Homo sapiens: one gene and its partners. The protein of the gene in region 2 purifies or fractionates together with the protein of the main gene of each other region. This does not show direct contact. Each region holds a gene or a part of one and is shown on either strand. Other genes may lie near its edges.

What was found.
Region 1: the proteins of PURG (region 2) and DHX57 purify together in Homo sapiens (co-immunoprecipitation; 2 studies listed by BioGRID and IntAct, with this or other methods). This does not show direct contact.
Region 3: the proteins of PURG (region 2) and U2SURP purify together in Homo sapiens (co-immunoprecipitation; 2 studies listed by BioGRID and IntAct, with this or other methods). This does not show direct contact.

Annotation. Positions count from the first base shown.
Region 1 is NC_000002.12:38,865,283-38,873,219, forward strand, and holds part of DHX57 (putative ATP-dependent RNA helicase DHX57), read right to left. Parts: intron 3,130-7,937; 5' UTR 3,124-3,129; coding exon 2,900-3,123; intron 1,951-2,899; exon of another isoform or gene 1,827-1,950; intron 1-1,826. UniProt on the Homo sapiens protein: Probable ATP-binding RNA helicase.
Region 2 is NC_000008.11:31,029,702-31,038,490, forward strand, and holds PURG (purine-rich element-binding protein gamma), read right to left. Parts: upstream 3,656-8,789; 5' UTR 3,377-3,655; exon of another isoform or gene 3,088-3,376; 5' UTR 3,082-3,087; coding exon 2,038-3,081; 3' UTR 1,149-2,037; downstream 1-1,148.
Region 3 is NC_000003.12:142,996,544-143,005,221, reverse strand, and holds the start of U2SURP (U2 snRNP-associated SURP motif-containing protein), read right to left. Parts: upstream 3,653-8,678; 5' UTR 3,594-3,652; coding exon 3,549-3,593; intron 1-3,548.

The DNA of each region.
Region 1 (7,937 bases), on a different chromosome or scaffold from region 2:
GGGGCAGTCTCCCCCATGCTATTCTCGTGATAGTGAGTAACTTCTCACGAGATCTGATGGTTTTATAAGGGGTGTCCCCCTTTACTTGGCTCTCATTCTTCTTTCTCCTGCCACCTTGTGAAGAAGGATGCTTTTGCTTCCCCTTTCAGCATGATTGTAAGTTTCCTGAGGCCACCCCAGCCCTGTGGTACTGTGAGTCAATTAAACCTCTTTCCTTTATAAATTACTCAGTCTTGGGTATGTCCTTATAGCAGCGTGAGAATGGACTAATACAGGGGTACATGTGCTATTTTGATACATGCATACAATGTGTAGTGATCAAATCAGGGTAATTAGGATATCTAACACCTCACACATTTATCATTTCTTTGTGTTGGGAACATTCCAAATTCTCTTAGCTTTAAAACCTAGAGTGTCCCAGGGCTCAAACATCAGATACCTTCTCTATTCGATTTTATCCAGACTCAGAACTTTAGCATTTATCTATAGAAGACTCACACATTTACATCTCCAGCCTAGATCTTTTTCTTGAACCTCAGATTTATATATTAAATTATCTATTTTATATCTACACTTGGAGAACATCTCCTAACTGGTCTCCTTGCTTTCAACTCATGCCCCTTTATAGTTTATTCTCTACAAAGCACACCCAGTCAATGCTATTGAGTATAGATTCATAGACTGTACACTGCACAAAGGTTCCTGGCTGGGAGGGAAGAAGAGGGAGGAAGGGACAGCAAAATCCGGTCCATGTTCTGCTGGCTAAGCCATGATCCTGGTGTGGGGCTATAACTGTCCAAAGGAAGGAGCACCATTTTCTAATTCACATAAAGGCATACACTGAATAGAAACAACTCTGGCCAGACTGACTGATAATATCACACACCCTTGCCTCAAACCCTCCAAAGGCCTTCTGTCTTACTTCATGTAAAAGCCAAAGTCCTAATAATGGCCCATGAAGTCCTATACAGTCTGGTCTTTCTGATCTAATTGCCTACCACTTGCCTTCTTGCCCACTCATTCTAGCCACATGGTTCTTTGCTATTTCCTAAACCTTCCAAGCACATTCTTGCCTTAAGAAATTGCTCTTCCCTCTGCCTTGAATGCTGTACTCAGAACTTCACAGCTTATTCCTTTACTTACTTCTTGCCTCTCTTCACGTGATACCTTATTAGGGGGGCTTTCTACATAAATTAACAATTCTATTTTGGTATTTTATATCCCTGTTACACTCCTTTATTTCTCTCCATAGCATGCGGCACCTGGTAATGTTATACATTTGTTTATGGTTTTTCTATCTCAAATCCCATTCTATCTAGATAAGGACAATATTTTACTCCCTGCTGCAATTCCAAGTCCCTAAAACAGTGCCTGGTGCATGGTAGGCATTCAGTAAATACTTACCAAATGAATGAACATCTACGGACTCCAAGAACCTATAATGTCCATGTTTTGAAAAACTATGGAGCTGCAGCTAACTCAGAAGTTAGGTTCTTGGCTAGGCACAGTGGCTCACGCCTGTAATTCCAACACTATGGGAGGCCAAGGCAGGAGAATCGCTTGAGCCCAGGAGTTCAAGACCAGCCTGGGCAACATAGAGAGACTATGCTGCTTGCTATTTATAAAGTCTATAGTAGTGTACAGTAATATCCCTAGGCCTTCACATTCACTCACCACTTCCTCACTGACTCACCCAGAGCAAAATCCAGTCCTGCAACTTCCATTCACGGTAAGTGCCCTACATAGGTATCATTTTTAATCTCTTATACTCTATTTTTACTATACCTTTTCTACAACTAGACATGTTTAGATACACAAATACTTACCATTGTGTTATAATTGCTTAGAGTATTCAGTACAGCAACATGCTGTATAGATTTGTAGTCTAGGAGCAATTGGCTACATCATACAGCCTAGGTGTGTTGTAGGTTGTACCATCTGGGGTTGTGTAAGTACATTCTATGATGTTTGCACAACAATGAAATTGCCTAACAATGCATTTTTCAGAACACATCTCTGTCACTAAGTGATGCCTAATTGTAGTTATACTGTATAACATGCAATAGCAAAACATTTACTTTTATTAAATACTCATTAGAATTACTAGAATTCCCATAATTTATTCATTAGTTAAAAGTTGAACAGGAGAGAAACCTAGATAAGGCATCTGTTACTGGTCACCACATGTAACACCATCAGATGATGGCTGATTTGGCTGGAAAATACACAGCTCATCAACTAGAAAGACACAGTACAGTCATGTTGCACTTTAGGCTGTTCAATGTTTGTTTTTTGAGATGGAGTCTCACTCTGTCACCCAGGCTGGAGTGCAGTGGTGTGATCTCAGCTCACTGCAACTTCTGCCTCCTGGGTTCAAGCAATTCTCCTGCCTCAGCCTCCCTAGTACCTGGGATTACAGGTGACTGCCACCATGCCTGGCTAATTTTTGTATTTTAGTAGAGACAGGATTTCACCCTATTGGCCAGGCTGGTCTCGAACTCCTGACCTCAAGCGATCCACACACCTGGGCCTCCCAAAGTGATGGGATTACAGGTGTGAGCCACCGTACCTGTCCATGTTCAATGTTAACATCATCATTTTAACATCAGTCTATGATGCATAAGGAATACTTAAAATAATTTTCATCACACTATTTCTGTATTTACTTTCCTAGTAACACTGGGTATAATAGCAGTATTACACTCAATTCACAGTGTCATGCAACCTACATACACACAAAAGCTGTTATTTCCCATCATGTCTTCAGAAAAGGGTTACAAAGAGGAAGACAATTTGACCAGAATTACTCGACTTTTTTTCCATTCTCAGCCATCTGTTGTCCCATACATTAGGGGTTGATACCATTTCCATATTTAAACATTCAAAGAGTTATAATGACCTGGAAGGGCGCCTTGATTCACTGAAGATACAAAAGTCATCTCCATCATCCCATATTCTACTGGAGGCCTTTCTGTTGCCGCCACCTCCACCACCACCACCACCGCCACCGCCACCACTCCCATGAGATTTACTGGCGTGACTCCTGCCTCCTCTTCCTCCTCTAGAAGACCCTTTTCCACCTCCTTTGCCTGGCTTGCCTTTTCTTCTTACTGAAGAACTCATTTTCACCTGCAAGAGAAAAAAATTAATGTAGACATCATAAAACCAGACATGTATGATAATCCTTTGTTTGCCAAACTTATGAATATAGGCTACTTTAAAGAAACAAAGGAAAATGCATATGTAAAAAGAGCTGGTCTTGGGGCAGGATTCTGAATCTGTTCCAGTGAAAAAATTTTAAAACTACAAAATAAAAAGAGCCAGCCAGTTTAGGGATAGTATGGATAAATCTTCACAAAAGATTTATAAGCACTTCTACCTCAGGACTAATATTTAGTGAATGTCTCTGATACAGATTTCTAAACTAAAGATGTACATCATAAACACATGGAGAAGTGTCAAAATACACATGTCTAGGCTTTAATCCTAGATTCTCATTTGGTTAGGTCTAATTTAGAGTTTTATTTATTTATTTATTTATTTATTTAGAGATGGAGTCTTGCTCTGTCGCCCAGGCCGGATGATCTCAGCTCACTGCAACCTCTGCCTCCTGGGTTCAAGCAATTCTCCTACCTCAGCCTCTGGAGTAGCTGGGACTACAGGCGCCTGCCACCACGCCCAGCTAATATTTGTATTTTTAGTAGAGATGGGATTTCACCATGTTGGCCAGGCTGGTCTCGAACTCATGACCTCAAGTGATCTGCGCACCTCAGCATCCCAAAGTGCTTGGATTACAGGTGTGAGCCACTGCACCCAGCCTAGCATAGGATTTTAAAAATCCAGTTGAGAAGTTTTCATGTATTTAATATATGTTTTGACAAAATTTAAATTTATATATGCTCTATCAGGAACACAGCTTGGGCTCAGAGATTCTGCCAAGGGCAAAAGGGAAGTAGGCCGTAAGACAGATAGCTCCTAATCTTTTTCCAAAGGACTGACTCCATTTACAATGGAGTGTGGAGAAGTTCAAACCTAAAGGTGCTTTCAAGAATAGTGAGGTTGTGGGGAAAGGGAGATTACAGGATTAAATGAAGATGTAGTTTAGACTGTTGGCCAACTAGTTTGCAGGAAGCAAACCAAGGAATAAGATCACTAGGAAGTTCCTTTTTGGGATTAGAATGAGTATTAAACTGGGATCTCAGAAACTATTGCTTCAAAGAAGCCATACTTTGGTTGGATTAGTTTGTAAAGGAATTTACTCTCCAGAGCATTGTTGAAAACAATTCAGCAATCAACCATGGGCATACCTAAAGCTGTACCTCCCAGAGGAGCAACAACAGAGGCTTAAAATCGTAGGAGGGAAATAGACTTCACTAAAATATTCTAGCCAGTCACTAAAAATTAAACCAGCAAATAACAATAAGAAGCCCCTGAAAGGGGAGAATCAGTACCCAGAGTTGTTACAGTATGTTATCCAAAATGTTCAGTTAACAACAAAAAAGTCACAAGGCATGCAAAGAAACACTTAAGTATAACCCATACACTGGAGAGAAAAAGCACAAACTGCCTATGAGTGAGAACAGATGTCAGATTTAACAGAAAAGGAGTTCAAAATAGTCATTATAAGTATGTTCACAGAAATAAAGGAATGCACAATTAAAGCAGTAAAGGAAGGTATGATGACAATGTCATATCAAATTGAGAACATCAATAAAGAGATAAAAAATTATATATATAAAAAGAACCAAATGGGAATTCTGGAGTTGAAAAGTATACTAATTGAAATTAAAAATTCACTAGAGAAGCTCAACCATAAACATGAACTAGCAAGAGAAAGAACTGATGAACTTGAAGACAGACTGACATTGATTATGCAAGCTGAAAACAGAGAGAACGATAAATGAAGAAAAGTGAACAGAGCCTTGGAAAAATGTGGGACACCATCAAGGGTACCATATACATATAATGAGAATACCAGAAGGAAAGGAAAGAAAGAAAAGAGCAGAAAAAATATTCAAAGAAATAATGGTAGAAAACTTCTCTGATTCATTAAAAATCAATAACCTCTACATGCAGGAAGCTCAATGGCCTCCAACTATTAGAAAATAAACACAGAGATGCACAAAATAGACATGTTGCAATAAAAATGTTGAAGGTCAAAAGACAAAGAGAAAATCATGAAAGGAGTAAGAGAAAAACAACTTATCACTTACAGGGGGGAACCCCAATAAAATTAATGACTGATTTCTTCACAGAAACAATGGAGGGCAGAAGGTAATGACATATATATTTAAAATACTCAAAGAAAAAAATAGGGCTGGGCGTGGTGGCTCATGCCTGTAATTCCAGCACTATGGGAGGCCAAGGCGGGCAGATCACGAGGTCAGGAGATCGAGACCATCTTGGCTAACACAGTGAAACCCTGTCTCTACTAAAAATACAAAAAATTAGCTGGGTGTGGTGGCACACACCTGTAGTCCCAGCTGCTTCGGAGGCTGAGGCAGGAGAATCACTTGAACATGGGAGACAGAAGATGCAGTGAGCCGAGATTGCGCCACTGCACTCCAGCCTGGGTGACAGAGTGAGACTCCATCTCAAAAAAACAAAAAACAAAAAACAAAAAAAAAACAACAAAAAATAGTTAACCAAAAATCCAGAAAAGCTATCTTTCAAAAATGAAGGTAAAATGAAAACTTTCTCAGACAAACAAAACTGAGAGAATTTGTTGTCAATAGACCCGCCTCACAAGAAATACTAACAGTTCTTCAAGTTGAGGCAAGTATCCCTGGATGGTAATTTAAATCTACATGAAAAAACAAAGAGTACTAGTAAAGGTAATTGAGTAATTATTTTTAAAAATCCACATTTATATTGGACATTTATTTATTTGAAAACCAGTACAAAAGTATTGTCTCTTCTTTTCTCTGAAATGATTTAAAAAGCAGTTATATAAAATAATATGTATATGATATAATGTTGGGCATGTCACCTACAAGAAGGTAATATGTATGTAATATATTTGCCAATAACAGCACAAAGAAGATTGGTGGGAGCGTAATTGTGCTGTGCTGAGAAAATGACTACAGACAGTAAAGTAATACTTGTAACAAGTATAGTTGGGTATATAACATTAATAGATATAATATGTATAACAATACTATAAAAAGGAGGAAAGGAATAGAGCTATATAAAAGTAATACTTCTATGTATCTGTCTTAGTCTGTTTTCTGCTATAACAGAATGCCACAGACTAGGTAATTTATAAACAACAGAAGTTTATTTGTCTCATGGTAATGGAGGCTGGGAAGTCCAAGAGCATGATGCTGGCATCTGCGTAGTGTCATCTCATGGTGGAAGATGGAAGGCAGAAGTGGGCACGATACAGAGAGAGGTACCAGCTGCCAGACTTATTTTATAATAACTCATTCTTTTTTTTTTTTTTTTGAGACAGTCTCACTCTGTTGCCCCAGCTGGAGTGCAGTAGCGTGGTCTCAGCTTACTGCAAGGTCTGCCTCCCTGGTTCATGCCATTCTTCCACCTCAGCCTCTGGAGTAGCCGGGACTACAGGTGACCGCCGCCGGCTAAGTTTTTGTTTTTTTGTATTTTTAGTAGAGACAGGGTTTCACCATGTTAGCCAGGATGGTCTCGATCTCTTGACCTTGTGATCCGCCTGCCTCGGCCTCCCAAAGTGCTGGGATTACAGGCGTGAGCCACCGCGCCCGGCCTAATAACTCATTCTTGCTATAACTAACCCACTCCCATGCTAGTGACATTAAACCATTAATAAGGGCTCTGCCCTCATGATCGAATTACCTGTTATTAGGCCCCATCTCCTAACACTGTTGCATTGGAAATTAAATGTCTAATACATGAACTTTGGGGGTAAACATTCAAACCATAGCAATATTGCTGGAATTAAGCTAATATAAATCTGAAGTTGTTCATAAACCCCAAAGCAATCACAAAAATACTACATTAGAAAATATTCACTTAATGACTAAATGCAAATGAAAGCATAAAGTAAGAACAGAAGAAAAAATAGACATTGAGAAATACAGACATCCAAAAGTAGAATAGAGTTAGATGTAATTCTCAGTATATAGACAATAAAAATAAATGTGAGAGAATAAAGCAGTCCAATCAAAAGACAGAGATTGTCAGACTTGATTAACAAACAGGATCCAAATATATTCTGTCTGCAGGAGAGGCACTTTAAATTCAAAGACACAATAAATGAAAAGTAAAAGGATGGAAAAAGATGATCTTGCAAACAGCAACTACAAGAAAGGTGGAGTGGCTATGTTAATAGCTTACAAAACAGACTTTAAAGCAAAAAATATTACTAGAGATAGGGATATTTCTTAATGATAAAAGGGTTAATCTGCCAGGAAATGATAACAATTAAAAACACATATGTACCTAATAATAAGGCACCAAAATACACAAAGCAACAACTGACAGAAATGAAGGGAGAATTAGACAATTCAATAATAATAGTAGGAGACTACAGTACCTCACTTTTAATGGTAGAACAACTAGACAGAGGATCAACAAGGAAATAAAAGACTTGAACAACACTCTAACCAACTAGACCTAATAGGTGTCTATAGAACACTCCACCCAACAACGAACTATACATACTTCTGAAGTACACATGAAACATTTTCCAGGATATAGACCATACTAGGTGATAAAAGAAACCTCAATACATTTTTTTTTTTTTAAGACAGAGTCTTGCTCTGTCGCCCAGGCTGGAGTGCAGTGGCACAATCTTGGCTCACAGCAACCTCCGCCTCCCAGGTTCAAGCGATTCTCCTGCCTCAGCCTCCCGAGTAGCTGGGACTACAGGCACCCGCCACCATGCTCCCTGACTAATTTTTGTATTTTTAGTAGAGATGGTGTTTCACCATGTTGGTCAGGCTGGTCTCGAATTCCTG
Region 2 (8,789 bases):
CTGACAGGTTGATTATTATTAATAGGCACTATGATGGGCAGCAATAACAATCAGTAGTACAGTAATTCAAGTGCACATCATTCCTTCATAGACCAAAAACTACTTTTTTAGCAAGCCTACATAGTTATTTTACAGTTAGGACTGTTTAAAAATCCTTGCTACTTTTAGAGTCTCAACACCCACCATGTGCTATTAGCTCTAGTACTAACATTATCTCCTAACCTTCAGTTGTTCCATAGTGATCCAGATGGTCCACAATTATAATGAACTAATGAGATTCCTTCACGCTACTAGAGGAAATGTGAAATACAATCTGCAAACCAACACTAGTATATATGTCGGGGTTACTGATTGCTTGTTCTTAAGTAACATAAACCAATGAAATTAATTTTTTTAATTCATACCATCAAGTTTTCTTAGTGACCTCACGTAAAGGTATTGGGGGACAAAACTCTGGAAGAAAAAAATCGCTGATATAATTTTAAATTACTTTTAGCATATAAAAGAAGAGCTACATTCTGATTTGAATCCATGCAGCCAGCTCTCATCAATGAGAGTGATATTTGGGGGTTGAAATCAGTGTTCTGGCTCTTAAATATGATTAGATGGACTTATTGTGTGGGAGGTGAATAAAGCCAAGATAAAAGACAATAATTTCATTCAGAAGAAAATATAGCTGAATAGATGTAATTTCAGTCAATTAATACAGGATGGGTTGGTACACATATAACACTATATCCACTTGTTTAAAAAATTGCTTAGGTGTTGAAAAATTGCTGTGGCACTTCCTGGAAAGTAATTTTTAATACAGGTAAATGGGTGAGTCTTGTGTAAAGTCAGAAAGAGCACCTTGGAAAATGCCTGAATTTTCCTTTCAAATATATTTATAACCAATCTTCAAATAATATTTTTCTCAGACTGGAAATTTGTATTCTAAATTATTTTTAGAAAAAAAAAATCCCCACCCCCTCCAGAATTAAAACACCTGTAAAATTCAGGATTATATTGGAAGTGTTGACATGGTTTTAAGGGTAGCAATTGCAAAAGTGCTACTAAAATATATTATTACAGGTATATTTTTATATCAGTTAATTGGTACACCAACCCTTCTGAAAGAGTGTTAAAGAAGAAGCATAAAGTATAACACCTTGAGTCCATGATATATTTTGGGGAAGAAACCTCTTGCAATCTTTAAATTAGCATGAAAAGCTACACCACCAAGATTTCCATAGCAAAGCCATTGGATGAAGCCTCCCACTCAATGTGACATAAAAGTAATTCCTGAAACTTTGGAAAGTCAATAAAAATATATGGAACATTAAGTAGAGGTAAAGAAGGGATTGTAACTAAACTTAGAATAACGAATTAAAACTCTCCCATGGCTTTGATATGGCAACTATAAAATGTAGGGTTACCACAAAGTTTGAAATTATAGAATACTATAGTATTCTTAAGAAATATTATGACATTATATTTTTAAGGTTTAATTAGGTAATAAGATTTGATCCTTTGATGGTATATTCAGTTATTCAACGGACAATATACGTCTACTTGTACTTTTATAAGTAAATATTTATATATACCGGAGGTCAATTTCTGTTTCTGTGGTAACTGCCCTACAGGTAAGCTTAGCAGCTTTTAATGAAGTAGAATTGAAATACTTTTGGGGGAAAGTCACACTTCTATTTAAGTATATGTATCTTTTTTCGGGATTATGTCATAGTGCAATGTAAATCTTAGTTATGGTATTTAGAATGTCAGAATGTCACATTTTGTGCTGATTTGCATACTTCAATAGTCTGGAGCAGTTGAAGCAGCTAAACTATTTAGCTCTGGGAAGGTTGGAATTCCCGTAAGAATTATAGTGATCTATGTGTAACATAACATGAGAATCAGACTTCCTGAAGTATCAACTACTAGAGGTATTACTAATAACAACGGGCCAAAAAAGAGGAAAAACTTCTTCAAAGGATAATGGATCAGTACTTTTAGCCAATTTGTGATTTTAAATTTTGCCTGATGGAGTTCAATTTCACTCTAGTCGAGGCATTCTTGTTCTTCACCACTGGCCTTTCTGCCATCCATTCTCTTTTCTTTATGGCTGTTGCAAATTTTCCTCATCTCTTCTTCATACTTGATAAAATTCTCCCCAAACCTTGTCCAAGCTTTGAATGGAACAGTAATAGTATTACGGTAAGGTGGTCTCACCTCACTTACCTTCAGGAAAATTCCATATTTATTAGAGCCCACATCAAAGTAGAACCTTTTATTGTCCACTCTGAAAGAAGTCCCCTCTGGGAGTTCAAGCGGGTCATCGTCTCCACCTCTTCGTTCTTCTATGTCTCCTTCGCCATAGTCTTCAATCAGCTGAACCAAGGCATCACGAAACTCAATCATTCCTTGTGCTGGGAGGACAATAGTCTGTTCTTGGCCCAAACTGTGGCCAAAATAACCTATCATGCCAGTCCCCCGCATCATGGTTTGTCTAATCCGTAGGAAGCGACCCCGCTGATTTTCCTTTAGGTCTAGGTAATATTTCCTATTGTCCCTCTCGATATAGTCTGTTTTCAGGACACTGTGAGGATGCTCTTCGGACCCCACCGAGACTGGTGGGGAGGGTGCCGAGTGCTTCTGCCTCCTTCTGGAGCCTTGCTCTTTGCTGTGGCCATGCTCTTGCCGGTGGCCTTTCAGGCCCAGGTGGGCATAGTGCTCGATGAAGTCCCCTAGACAGTCCTTCAGCTCCGCTGCCACAGACAGGGAGAGGGTCAGTTTACTCTTTCTGATGTTGTCCTGCCGGCCTCTCCCTATCCAGACTTCGGCTATCTTTAGGAAGCGGCCCCGGGAGCTTTGCTTCACGTCTAGGTAAAACCTCTTTTTCTGGATGTCCACTCGTTTGGAGGCCAGCTCCTGGATTTCGGCTGCGCCCCCGGCCTGATTAGGGGTGGCTGAGGCCGCGTAGTGGGGGTAGTGGGAGTGCTGGGCCTGGGGATAGAGTCTACTCTTGCTTAGGCCAGAGCCCCCTACATTCTTGCCTCCGCGGCCGCGGCCGCCGCCGCCTCCCCTTCGCCTGGCTCTTTCCATCTTCAGCTGCAAGTAACAAACAGACACACGGGATGGGGTGGGGGAGGGGTGTTGAGAACAATCGCAGACGCCCCTCGGCCTGACCGCCCCGCCGCCGCCCGCGACCCCCACGCCGGGCCCGGCTCCCCCGGCGCCGCAGCGCGGGGCTCCAGCCACTGCCGGCCGGTTGGCGGCCGCCGCTCCGGCTCTGCCCGCGCTCCCCGCATCCCTCCGCCGCCCCCGGGGCCGCTCCCGCACGCCGCCGCCGCCCGTCCCGCGCTCCGCGGCCCCAGGTCTCCAGCCGGCGGGCACTCACATCATCTCTGCCATCACCGCCGCCGCCGATGCCCTTCACGACCACCGCCGCCGCCACCGCCAGCTCTCGGCCCCTCTGCTGCAGCCGCCGCAGCCGCCGCCCCCCGCCTCCTCCCCCGCCGCCGCCGCTCGCACTGCCCCCCGCCGGAGCAGCCGGGCAGGGGCATCGCCCGCGGCGCCCACCGCAGCCGCCCCTCCTGCGGCCGCTGCGGGGGCCGCCGCCTGACTTCGGACACCGGCCCCGCACCCGCCAGGAGGGGAGGGAAGGGGAGGCGGGGAGAGCGACGGCGGGGGGCGGGCGGTGGACCCCGCCTCCCCCGGCACAGCCTGCTGAGGGGAAGAGGGGGTCTCCGCTCTTCCTCAGTGCACTCTCTGACTGAAGCCCGGCGCGTGGGGTGCAGCGGGAGTGCGAGGGGACTGGACAGGTGGGAAGATGGGAATGAGGACCGGGCGGCGGGAATGTTCTCACTTCTCCGGATTCCACCGGGATGCAGGACTCTAGCTGCCCAGCCGCACCTGCGAAGAGACTACACTTCCCGAGGTGCTCAGCGGCAGCGAGGGCCTCCACGCATGCGCACCGCGGCGCGCTGGGCGGGGCTGGATGGGCTGTGGTGGGAGGGTTGCAGCGCCGCGAGAAAGGCGAGCCGGGCCGGGGGCGGGGAAAGGGGTGGGGCAGGAACGGGGGCGGGGACGGCGCTGGAGGGGCGGGTCGGGTAGGTCTCCCGGAGCTGATGTGTACTGTGTGCGCCGGGGAGGCGCCGGCTTGTACTCGGCAGCGCGGGAATAAAGTTTGCTGATTTGGTGTCTAGCCTGGATGCCTGGGTTGCAGGCCCTGCTTGTGGTGGCGCTCCACAGTCATCCGGCTGAAGAAGACCTGTTGGACTGGATCTTCTCGGGGTAAAGTGTCTTCCTATTCCCGTTTTCCCAGCTCCGTGCCCCGGGGTATCTATAGTGCTAGGCTTCTGAGACACGTGGAGGCGCTTAGGCCCGCGGAGCAGGCCCCTGGGCTGTGTTTGGGAGATTCTGGAAAAACAGACTTTCTCCCTTTTCCTTTCCCCTCTGGAGCAGCTGGGAAAGGCGTCTCTCGGAGCTTCCGCCATTCAGAAAGTGTTTCCCCGCCCCTGACGGCCCCAGCTTGATGTTTACCTTGCGCGCTTAGTTAGGATTGCTCTTTCTAGTACGGCCTTTATTATGGCAGAAATTGAGCCACTACAGGTCTGCACAGCAAAGTCGAGGGAAATAACCTGCTGTCTATGATTTAGCAAGTGATGATGGATATTTTTGAGTTCAAATCACTCAGTCTTTAATGGATTTTCTTTTCTTTTTTTCCTAGTTGAATCTCAGTTGTTCTCAGGCTAGGTTTGATATGAAAAATACTACTCCCTATTGAAGAGGGTAATATAATTCTTAGGATGCTAATACAGGAGTCTGTAAGTCGGAGTACTTCAGGCTTTTTATGGTTCGGTACATTTCTTTTTAGGGGTGGGATATTGGGATAAGTAGGACAGTTCAGATCTTGATGTCATTGAATAGTGGTGTCTACCTAAAAGGAAGAGGCTGGGGCACAAAATTATAATTTAAAGTGTTTACTTCAGCCAAAATGAGGACAGCTGCCCAGGACTCATTTCCCAGTTGCCTTGGGGAGTGCTCCTTCAGCCTTGGTTACAAGCAGGTTTTTAAAGGCGAAGGGGAAGAGTGGGCTGAGACAAAGTTGGTCAGGAATTGTTATTGGTTTACAGAGATACCATTGCTTAGTGATTGGCTGTACACTGTAACTCATAGGGTATGAGTTATCGTGTCCAGCATATGGCATTTTATGGCTTCTTGGTTCCAGTCTAGAGCCCATATAGCAGGTGGGCTTTAAGAGATAATTATCCAGCTCAGACCGGGAGTGAGACGGGACTGTTTTTTCATTCTAATGCCTCTCTGGGCCTGATAATTTAAAGGGGCTTGCATTCTTCAGCTAAAATTTTATTTTCTTTTATTTTTTTTCCCCCACAGTGGTCTCCCTTTATTAATCCAACAAATGTTTATTAAGGACTGCTCTAGGCACTAGAGATACCAACAATGAACAAAACAGACAAACATCTCTCTCCTTTTGGAGCTTACATTTTAGTGGAAAGAGACAGGCAAAAAGTAAAATTATAGGATGACAGAAGGTGAAAATAGAGATTAAAAAGGAAAGGGGGATGAAGAGTGTGTGTGTGTGTTGTGGGTGGGGGGCTGTAGGGAGCTGCAGTTTTACAATAAGTGGTCAGGGACGTCCTCGCTGAGAAGGGAATTTTTGAGTCCAGAGCTCAAGGAAGTGAGAGAACTTACCTTGACGTTCTCTGGAGGAGAAGAAAGTACAAAGGCCCTGGGGGAACCTGCCTCTTTATGTTCAGAGAGCAACTTAAGAGGCCTAGTGAGCTGGAGCAGAGCGGAGAGGAGGTCAGAGGTCAGGCCAGAAAGGGAAAGGGGCCAGAATGTGTAGGACTTTATGGGCTATATTGAAAATTGGGGCTTTCATTCTGAGGGAGATGGGAAGCTGTTGGAGAGTTGTTAGGGAAACGTGATCTGAATTATGTTTCTAAAAAATTGGAGTAAGATATCATAAAATTTGCCATCTTAGTCTTTTTTGTATCTGGCCAATTCCACTCAGAATTCTTTTTTAAACAGCTTTATTGAGATATAATTAATATATCATATGATTCACTCATTTAAAGTGTGCAATACAATGGTTTTTAGTTTGTCTTCAGAGTTGTACAACCTTTATCACAATTACCTTTAGGACTTTTTCATTACCCAAAAGAGAATCTCCATAACCATTAGTACTCAATCCCACCCGCTTTCCTAGCAATCACTTACCTATTTTTTTGTCTCTATATAGCTCTCAAACCCTATGATATTCCTTCTATCTAACTGTATTTTTGTACTCATTAACAGCCTCTCTTCATTCCCACCACCCATCCATCCCAGCCTCTGGTAATCACCATTCTACTTACTACCTCAATGACATCAAATTTTTTAGCTCCCACATATAAGTGAGAACATGCGATATTTGTCTTTCCCTGCCTGGTTTATTTCACTTAACAGAATGTCTTCCAGTTCCATTCATGTTGCTGCAAATGACAGGATTTCATTCTTTATTATGGCTTAATACTATTCCATTGTATATGTATATCACATTTTCTTTATCCACTCATCTGTTGATGGACAGTTAGCTTGATTCCATATTCTGGCTATTGTTGAATAGTGCTGCAGGAAACATGGAAGTGCAGATAGCTCTTTGACATACTGATTTCATTTCCCTTGAATATATACCCTGTAGTGGATTTGCTGGACCCGCTTGTAGTTCTACATTTAATATTTTGAGTTATTTCCATAATGTTAGTAATAATTTACATTCCCACCAACAGCGAGGAAGGAGTTCCCTTTTCTCCACATCCTCGCCAACACTTATCTTTTGTCTTTTTGGTAATAGCCATTCTAACAGGTGTGAGGTGATATCTCATTGTGATTTTGATTTACATTTCCCTGATGGTTATTGATGAGCAATGTTTCATATACTTGTTGGTTATTTGTATATCTCCTTTTGAGAAATGTCTATTCAGGTCTTTTGCTCATTTTTTAAATATGGTTTTTTAATTTTTTTATTTTTTTGCTATTGAGTTGTTTGACATCCTTAAACATTTTGGAAATTAACCTCTTATTAGATGTATAGTTTGCAAATATTTTATCCGATTCTGTAGATTCTGTCTTCAGTCTGTTGAATTTGCTGTGCAGAGAAGCATTTTATTTTGATGTAATCCCTTTGTCTATTTTTGCTTTTGTTACCTTTGCTTTTGAAGTCATATCCAAAAAATCATTGCCCAGATCAGCAGTCCCCAACCTTTTTGGTACCAAGGACTGGTTTCATCGAAGACAATTTTTCCATCCACAGGAGGGAGGGGATGGTTTCAGGATATTTCAAGCGCATTACATTTATTGTGCACTTTGTTTCTATTATTATTACATTGTAATATATAGTGAAATAATTATACAATTCACCATAATGTAGAATCACTGGGAGCCCTGAGCTTGTTTTCCTGAAACTTGAGGGTCCTATCTGGGAGTGATGGGAGACAGTGACAGTTCATAAGGCATTAGGTTCTTCTAAGGAGCATACAACCTAGATCCCTTGCATGCGCAATTCACAGTAGGTTTTGCGCTGCTATGAGAATCTAATGCCACCGTTGATGTGTCAGGAGGTGGAGCTCAGGTGGTAACGTGAGGAATGGGGAGCAGCTGTAAAGAAAAATGAAGCTTCGCTTGCTTGCCTGCTGCTCACCTACTGCTTTGTGGCCTGGTTCCTAACAGGCCATGGACTGGTACTAATCTGTGGCCCTGGGGTTGGGAACCTCTAGCCCTGACCAATGTTAGGGAGCTTTTTTCCTGTGTTTTCTTCAAGTGGTTTCATGGTTTGGGGTCTTACATTTAAGTCTTTAGTCCATTTTGAGTTGATGCTGTATGTGGTGAGAGATAATTGACTACTTTCATTCTTTTGCATATGGTTATCAGTTTTCCCAACACCGTTTATTGAAGAGCCTGACCTTTCCCCATTGTGGGTTCTTGGCTCTTTTGTCAAAAATCAGTTGGCTATAAATATGTGGTTTTATTTCTTGGGTCTCTGTTCTGTTCTATTATCTGTGTGTCTCTTTATGCCAGTACCGTGCTGTTTTAATTACTAGAGTTTAGTATATTTTGAAGTCAGGTAGTGTGATGCCCCTAGCTTTGTTCTTTTAGCTCAACATTGCTTTGGCTATTCAGAGTCTTTTGTGAGGATAATGTTTTCAAGGTTCACCCATGTTGTGGCATGTATCAGAACTCGATTTCTTTTTATGGCTGAATAATATTCCATTTGTTTATATTATATATATGCCATATTTATTTATTCATATGTTGATGGACACTTAGGTTGTTTCCACCTTTTGGCTATTGTGAATAATGCTGTTATTAACATTGGTGTACAAGAATCTGTTTGAGTTCCTATTTTCAATTCTTTTGGGAATATACCTACGTGTGGACTTACTAGATCACATGGTAAGCTTTTAGTTTAGCTTTTTAAGGAACTGCTAAAACTGTTTTTCCATGGGAGCAGTGTACAAGTGTTCCAGTTCTCCATATGCTCACCAAAACTTAATTTCCTTTTTTAAAAATTATAGCTATCCTAGTAGGTGGTGGGAAGTGGTATCTTACTGTGGTTTTATTTTGTATTTCTTTAATGACTAATGATGTTGAGCATCTTTTAATGTGCTTATTGGCCATTATATGTCTTCTTTGGGAACTGTCTATTAAGTCCTTTGCCCATTTTTTAATTGAGTTTTTTTTTCTGTTGAATTGTGGGAGATCTTTATATATTCTGAATATTAAACCCTTATTGGGTGTATGATTTG
Region 3 (8,678 bases), on a different chromosome or scaffold from region 2:
GGAAGCCTGTAGTATTTTGTTTTATCCATTCACCTAACTCAATTTTTGGCGATACGGCAAAAAAGAAAAAAAAAAAAAAAGCCATAGTCACAGAGTGAAATAGCAGGGCACACAATTACATTACATTAGCAATATTACCAGCACAGGAGATGGCAGAAGGAAAGAAAATACTACATTTTCTTCATATCCTAATTTTGCTGAGTAAGCAAACAATTGACAGTCAAAAACAGTAATTTTTTTATAAATTAAATTCTAAGGAAATATGCTTAACAATTTTATAAGTAAACAATTACAGGCTCTCTCTCTCTCCTCTCAAAATGAAAGCTACTACATAACATCAACACCCCTCCCCAACCAAGCAATATTTTAGACTAGTGATAAACAAACAAATGCACAGGAAAATTTTAGCTCATTTCTAGAACATTTGTTAAATGTCTACATCTGCCAGGCTCTAAAATGCAAAGCACAACAAAATTACACAGAAAATTAAAGTGCACAGGGGTCTCTTCATTAGGGACAATTATGAATAAAGGTAAGTCATTCAAGTACATACACATACATAAAGTATCATTTTAAAACTAGAAGCCAGGCACGGTGGCTCACGCCTATAATCCCCGCACTTTGGGAGGCCGAGGCGGGGGGGGGGGGTCACAAGGTCAAGAGGCCAACAGATGAAACCCCATCTCTACTAAAAATACAAAAATTGGCCAGGCGCCTGTAGTCCCAGCTACTCGGGAGGCTGAGGCAGAAGAATTGCTTGAACCCAGGAGGCAGAGGTTGCAGTGAGCTGAGATTGCACCACTGCACTCCAGCCTGGGCGACAAGGCAAGACTCCCTCTCAAAAAAAAAAAAAAAAAAAAAAAAAAAACACCCCAACTAGAAGACCTGTAGAGGTTATCTAATTTAATCTTTTTATAATTAAGAAATGTTAATAATTTTGCCATATTGTACATTTAAAATTAACATTTTCCCAATGTCTAGAAATATAATAAGCATCCCTATCCATATTAACGGGAATGTAACTACCAAAGAAAACGACGAATCATGAAACAGAAGTATCTGTTCACTCCATCTGTATTGTAAAATATAAGCCACTCATCTGTTCTTTCCAGAGGAAAGGAAATCAAACCAGATATCAAAGGCTAGAAATTCTAAATACTGTAGTATTAGCCAAAATGATCTTACAATTTCTCTAATAAATTATGTGTTAGAAATAAAAAGCAGGGAAGCAGGGCGGGGCACGGTGGCTCACGCCTGTAATCCCATCACTTTGGGAGGCTGAGGCGGGTGGATCACGAGGTCAAGAGATCGAGACCATCCTGGCCAACATGGTGAAACCCCGTCTCTACTAAAATACAAAAAATTAGCCGGGCGTACTGGCGGGCGCCTGTAGTCCCAGCTACTAGGGAGGCTGAGGCAGGAGAATCACTTGAACCCGGGAGGCGGAGGTTGCAATGAGCCGAGATTGTGCCACTGCACTCCAGCACTCCAGCCTGGGCGACAGAGCGAAACTCTTTCACAAAAAAAAAAAAAAAAAAAAAAAAGAAATAAAATAAATAAAAAGCAGCTATCTGGGCAGTCATTATGACAGCTGATGACTTAGATTCCAAATCACAGGATTAAAATTTATCCTGACATTTTGAAAGCTAAGAACTTTTGATTTCCTCTAAAAACAAAAAGAGGGGAAAGAAATTAAGATTTATTATGTACTTCATAGACATTATCTCATTTGATCCTTATATCAACCATGTAAAAAAAGAATTATATCTACATTACAAATGAGGGAATTGAGGCTCCAGAGTTTAAGCAATCTGCCTTATTATCGCAAATATAATTAATTACCAAGTCAGGATTTGAACCCAAATCTCTTGTTAACAAAATTCATAATCTTCCCACTACATTATGCAGCCTCCAAATTAGTTAAGATATTCTGATTCCTTTCACAGACATCAGTAAGAAATCTGCTAATAGCATCAAGAGATTATAATCTAAGGCAATATAAACAGAAAAGATTACTGGATAATCCAATAATTTATTTATTGAGAACAGCCATACATTCAGTCATGAGAAGCACTATTTTAGAAGGAAGCCTGAACACAGACATTGAAATGTTTTCAATGTATCCAAGACCTCAAGTAGGGAATACTTAAAATATTACTTTGAGAAGAAACAAAAATTGTGAGGCTTATGCACGACTTGTTATGAACGTAGCTAGCTTTAGTAATAGCTCCCTAACGGTATGTTCTTGTCAGGAGTCTGTTGAGAAGAGTTGGTAGAGCTCGCCCCCAAAGAGAGGGAGACGAGAAAATGTACTGAGGAGGGGGAAAAAAAACTGACACAATACCTTGTAAAGAAGCCGAAACTGGCCCCTCACCAAAGTTTCTATGTAACTAAACGATGTCTGTTAAGACCATTACTAATTATGAATTAATTATTTTGGTGTACATCGTTCACCAAATGGCATAAACAGTCGGATTAGAGAAAGCAAGTAGAAAACGAGTTATGATGTTTCTCAGAACTGTAAACGCAAGCTTCTCTCCTACCGTAAATTTAACTTTCTAATAGCCGATTTACAGTCACACACTCTTTAAGATTTAACAGTCCCTAGCACCTGAAAGTGTTACACAGCTTCTTGCATCAGCATCGGAAAGTTTAACTACCTCGTGGCAGTACCAATTACTTTTAATATATTCGAGACCAGAAACCCAAACCAAAAAACGATTAAATGTCCCGCCCAAGATGGCAACTAAGAACCCAACCGTACTAATGCTTAACTACTACCACAGCTCACTGGTTTCACAATACGTGCCCAGGGTTCCCTGTAAACACAAATGCAATTTACTAATCGTATGTAGCTTACAAGTCTACGGAGCTTCTCTTTTCACTGTTTCTTCAACATAAAGAAAGAGACCACGAGTCCTCTACCCTCAAAAGTGCTTTTTACTTCCCGTTAAGGTAAAGACCACGTGTAGACTGTACATTAACCTTGGCTATGCAGCACTGCAAAGGAGAGCTGCTCCCGCCTCTGCATTTCCCACTCCGTGTCTTTGCCCTAGTGGTCCTCCCCTCACAGCTGGCGACCCTAGAGGTTATTCATTCCTTGGAGGGAAACTGAGGGAGGCCGGAAGTGAGTGAGATCCAAAACCGAGAAAAAAGCAGCAGACATTTAAGCACCGGGAAGCGATTCCCGCCTCTCTCCCAGGCGCTGTCTGGCGGCCTCAGGGCGCAGGAAGCTGAGATACAGGAGAGCGTTTTCACTGCTTCAGACCTCAATCTGAATTCCTGATTTCACTCCAATGCCAAGCGCGGGCCGAAGCACTCACGCCTCCACCCACTGGGCACGCCAGTCTCGAGCTGAATCCCGGCTGGGACTATGGGGAGATACCAGGCCTCTCAACCTGCGCACAACGGTGCGGCGGCGCCCGGGCCTACCGTCGCGACTAGAATGCAGACCCCAATCCCAATCGCCTCTCACAGGCCAGAAGCGTCTGTGGGCCCCAAACGACAGTGGTAGATCCGCTGACTTACGAAATTTTGTCAGAAATTACCTTTGAACTGGCCTTCTGAGATCCGCCTGGCGTTTTGTCCGCCATCTTGAGCTTTGCCCCTCCTTCGGCGGCGGCAGCAGCACGGGCGAGTCGAGCACCGAAAGAGCGGATCTCAGTGAAGCCCGCCAGAGGCGCCTGCAAGGCTGAATAGTCGACTGTCGAGATAGCGACCTTAGGGGCAGCCGCTCACGTGACTTCCGGTGTCAGTAATTTCCTCAGCCGCGCTCACTCCGCTAGTTTTCCTGGGAGTCACGGTGCTTGGTCGCGTTATTGGGTCCGGGAATTCAGAGAATCAGGGCCAGCTGATACTTCACCCTCTTATCCCAACGCCAACCCTTGATAGATGCGAACCAGTCGTATTTCCTTTGTGGGAAAGGAGTCGCTTTTTAAAGACGTGCACTGGCCATCTAGGGAGGAGCTTTTACTTCAACTCAAAATAGGACTGGAGCTGACTGGTGACCTGGCGCTCGATGGACGGAAACGCTGTTCTTGCCGCTTCGGCAGCTCCCATACTGGTGGGAGAGGCAAACTTGCAGTCTGCTCATCTTAAGATGGTGAATGTTGAGATAGGGTTGCTCCCGAAAAGCCGAGAAGAGGAGCCGTTTGACCCAACTTGAGGGTGATCCGATAGACACTCTTTAGGGCGTCTGCAGAGTGGGTGCGCGTGGAGACAGTCAATAAGAGAAAATCGTAAATACAGATGGTATTCTAAATCTAGCATGCATGTAAAGTTGTGTGACATTTTAAAGATTACATTTTACACTTTAGTATTGTTTTCATTTTTAATCACATAAATGGGGGAACACCATATTAAACTTTTCTGAACTTAGTACTTTTTTAAAAAGTTCTTAATCAGGGCCTAGATTCAAAGACGGAAAGCTTGCTTGAGAAGGCCATGCCCGAATCAGGCCAGGCAAGGAAAGAAAGGACATTCCAGACAGAGGGAGTAATTGAGGTAAAAGCCTGTGGCATGAATCAGTACAGCCGATCGTGCAGGTCACCTAAAGCAGTCGTTTTATTAGACCAGGTGTGGGGAGGGACGTGGTTGGACAGGGGTGCGGGTGCAGGTTCACACAGCGCCCTGAGGTCACCATCGTGCTTAGGAGTTAGAATTCTGTTCTCAGAATGAAGATCGGCCTTTAACAAGGTTGAAATGGTCAGATTTTTATTTTAAAGTATTGCTCTGAGGACTAGGGTGGGAGTGGAGGGCGTTTGTGGACCTCTCCCTAAATCATTTATTCAAAATATTTTTGAGCCCCGTTTTGTGTGTAAAAGCCTGCCCAAAGTGTTGTAGGGCTTACAGAGACAGACAAACATGCACTGTCTTCATATGATTTAAAACTTAATGAGAAATGGAGGAGACAAGGAAACCGCAAACTGACACTATGCATAATTAAATTGATGCTGCAAGGAAGGATCAATAGCTGAGGGACCTCTGAAAGAAGTAATTAATTCTGAGAGTAGGAGTGAGGAAAAGAGACGGGGCGGGGCAGGGGGGGGGGTGGTCATAGAGAAGAAAGCATTTGAACCAGCTCTGAAGAAGTAGAATTTTGTTGAATGGCGGGGGTGGGGAGCGAGGGAAGCACTTAGAACAGGATCTGACACAAGGCTGGCTCTCAAGAAAGATTAACAGACATATATGCCAGCCACTAAGGAATCAGCAGGCCAGGCCTCCTATTCTCTGTGAGGGTATGAGGGTAGAAGAACAGACAGTAAACAAGAAATGATCTGAAAGTGACAAGTGCTACACATGAAATTAGAATGACTTGCACCCTCCAACCCAATTCAATTTACTTCTACTGCTGGATTCTGTCATACTTTTTCAGTTCTGGGCCTCTTCCCTCAACCTTGCCCTGCCCTCTCATTGAAGTCTAATCCAATTCTACTCTGGGTGAAGATGTCCCTTCCTCCAGGAAGGCTTACAGTCCTCCCTCCCCACCAATCCTAAATCAGAGACCCTTCTGTTTCCAAGGAACCTATACTTTACCACTTTGAAGAGCTCAGCACACTAGATCTTAACAGGGTTTTGTTTTGTTTTGTTTGTTTTGAGACGTCTCGCTCTGTCGCCTAGGCTGGAGTGCAGTGGCGTGATCTCGGCTCACTGCAAGCTCCGCCTCCTGGGTTCATGCCATTCTCCTGCCACAGCCTCCCGAGTAGCTGGGACTATAGGCGCCCGCCACCACGCTCGGGTAATTTTTTGTATTTTCAGTAGAGACGGGGTTTCACCATGTTAATCAGGATGGTCTCCATCTCCTGACCTCGTGATCCACCCACCTCGGCCTCCCAAAGTGCTGGGATTACAGGCGTGAGCCACCGCGCCCAGCCTAGATCTTAACTGTTTATAGGATTAGAAAGTGAAATCATCAGCTGAGATGAAGAGGAGAAGTGGGACTGGGTATGCCTTGTGGTGTTCTGACAATGCCACAGGCTGATTTTGTCACTAGAAAGTGAATATGTGTAGCTTTTCAGTCAAATCCCCAAAGTCCTACTTATTTTAAAAATAATTTTTACTAAATACTCCTGAAGAGTCAAAAACAAAAGAATGCAGACTTCTTTCCTCTCTTCTTTTTTATATTGTAAGCCCCAAAGCAAGTCAGACAAATATGATGTGACTAGAAATAATACGGGCCTTTATTAAGGGTTAAGTACGCTTTTAAAAATTCAAAATCATTGCCAGGCACAGTGGCTCAGGCTTGTACTCCTAGCACTTTGGGAGGCCAAGGCGGGCAGATCAAGGCAGGCAGATGGCTTGAACCCATGAGTTCGAGACCAGCCTGGGCAACATGGCAAAACCTTATTTCTACAAAAAAATATTTAAAAATCAGCCAGATGTGGTGGCATGCATCTGTAGTCCCAGATAGGAGGCTGAAGTGGGAGGACCACCAGAGCACTGGGAATCTTGCCATTGCACTCCAGTCTGGGCAACAGAGTGACCCTATCTCAGGAAAAAAAAAAAAAAATTGAACATCACAATTATGAGTAAGAATTCTTGATACGTGAAATTCTGGCCCTATTACGTCATGAAATTCTGGCCCTATTACTCAAATTACAAATTCAGGAAAGTGAAATAGCATGAAAATAATCCAAATGGAATTTTATGGAATCTGAATAATTAGATTAGTGCTAAGGGACTACACATAAACAGTAAGAATCATGCAATTTACTGCAACTAGTATTACCTTTTTACAATTACAGTAAAACCATGCCATTTTTCTCTTCCCGATGTGTTGATTTTCTGGTGCCCACACCTGCCATTTGTTTTTAAGGCTTCTCCCTGCAGCAGATACGTTCAAGAGAAATTACAAAGTAGTGCCATATACAATACTGAGATGTTTTGTTTGGTTCATTCAGGGAGATTTTTTCTTTGAAATTTGAGCTAGCATTTTAAAACAGAGAGATTTTACATAAAACTCAGGGTTTCTAGCCTTTCTTGAAAAATGGGGAAGTCTGGCAACACTGGGGGACAATCCAGGTGAGGTGGCCTGCAGCGACTTCTAGGGAAGGGGGCTATGAACACCAGTTTAGCCACCAACTCATCATACACGGTGGACAAATTCCCCATACCCAGCCTGCTTGTAGGCATTTCAGTTTTCTACTTCTGATGTACAGTGTAATACTTACCTGGGGTGATGATCAAAACATTACCAACCAGTTCCCCCAGGCACCAGCCAGAACTGACTTGTTAGTAAGGTACAGGAGACTCAGTGCCTAGGGCTCACAATAATTTTTAGACCTCCCCACCAAAAATGTTTTGATTTCTTTAAGGAGGAAAAAAGTGGAGTGGAGAAAGTATTTAACAATACAAACAGCTGTGGAACCTGTGCATGCTGAAAGATAGAGACCTTAAAAAATGATTGCCCCAAAGCTACAGCCTCCTGTATTGTGCCAATGGACTGCTCCTACTTGGTGGCATTTTCATTCTAGACAGTTTTTAAACAGTTTTTCCCTGCTCTCTGGGTTTCAGGATATAGGCTGGTAAAAGGAACACTCCATTTGCTTCTTTGGCATTTATTGAGTTTCTAGCTTGTGCTAGGCTCTGAAGAAAGAAGATAAAAGGAGAGACAACTAAAAATCAGACTTAATGTCTTCTGCTAAGACAGATCCTAGCTGCTTCTAGGAATAATTAGGAAACAGCCTTCACGGAGGTGTGGTCAGTGTGGAATGGAAAATTCCTTCTGCTGCACTTGACTGCCTGCCCCACACCCACCCCACAACGTAAGTGTTATGAATAAGGTTTTAGTAGCAACAGCAGCTGCTCCCCCTTTCTCACACACACAAAAATTACCTGACTCACTTATTGATTATATACAGATTCCTTTGACAATAATAATTAGCAGTGGCAGCCAGGCGCAGTGGCTCACGCCTGTAATCCTAGCACTTTGGGAGGCCAAGGCAGGTGGATTGCCTGAGCTCAGGAATTTGAGACCAGCGTGGGCAACATGGTGAAACCCCTTCTCTACTAAAATACAAAAGAAATTAGCTGGGCATGGCAGCGTGCACCTGTAGTCCCAGCTACTCAGGAGGCTGAGGCAGGAGAAATGCTTGAACCCAGGAGGCAGAGGTTGCAGTGAGCTGAGATCACACCACTGCACTCCAGCCTGGGCAACAAAGCGAGACTCCGTCTCTACAAAAAATAATAATAATAATAATAATAATAATAATTAGCAGTGGCATTTTTTTAAAAATGATGTCAAAAAGTATATAGCCCAAGAATACACTGGTGCCATGTTGAAAATAATAGAAATTGCCATTTTAACTATGATCCTAGTGAGAAGGAAACCTTTACTGTGTAGGAATTATTTTATCAACAAGGTTAATAAAATCTAGGAGAGTCCAGATGGCGTACTGTGGAAATGGAAATGAGCGTTCCTGAGTGTGTGTGTGTGTGTGTGTGTGTGTGAGTGTGATAAAGGAGGACTCAAGGTTCCTGTGGCAGGTCATGAGAACCAGCACACGGCAAATCTGGGGAGCTCTCTCTTGCCATGGCCAGGCAACCCAAAGGTGGGCTTGACTTGGACCACCAAAGATAAGGCCTCACTTAACTTGTGACCTGGCTTTGGCCAGTGCGAAGCGTACATATCCCCATATTTACTGAAACTCACGAGACAAGACCAGGTAATATTACAGGCT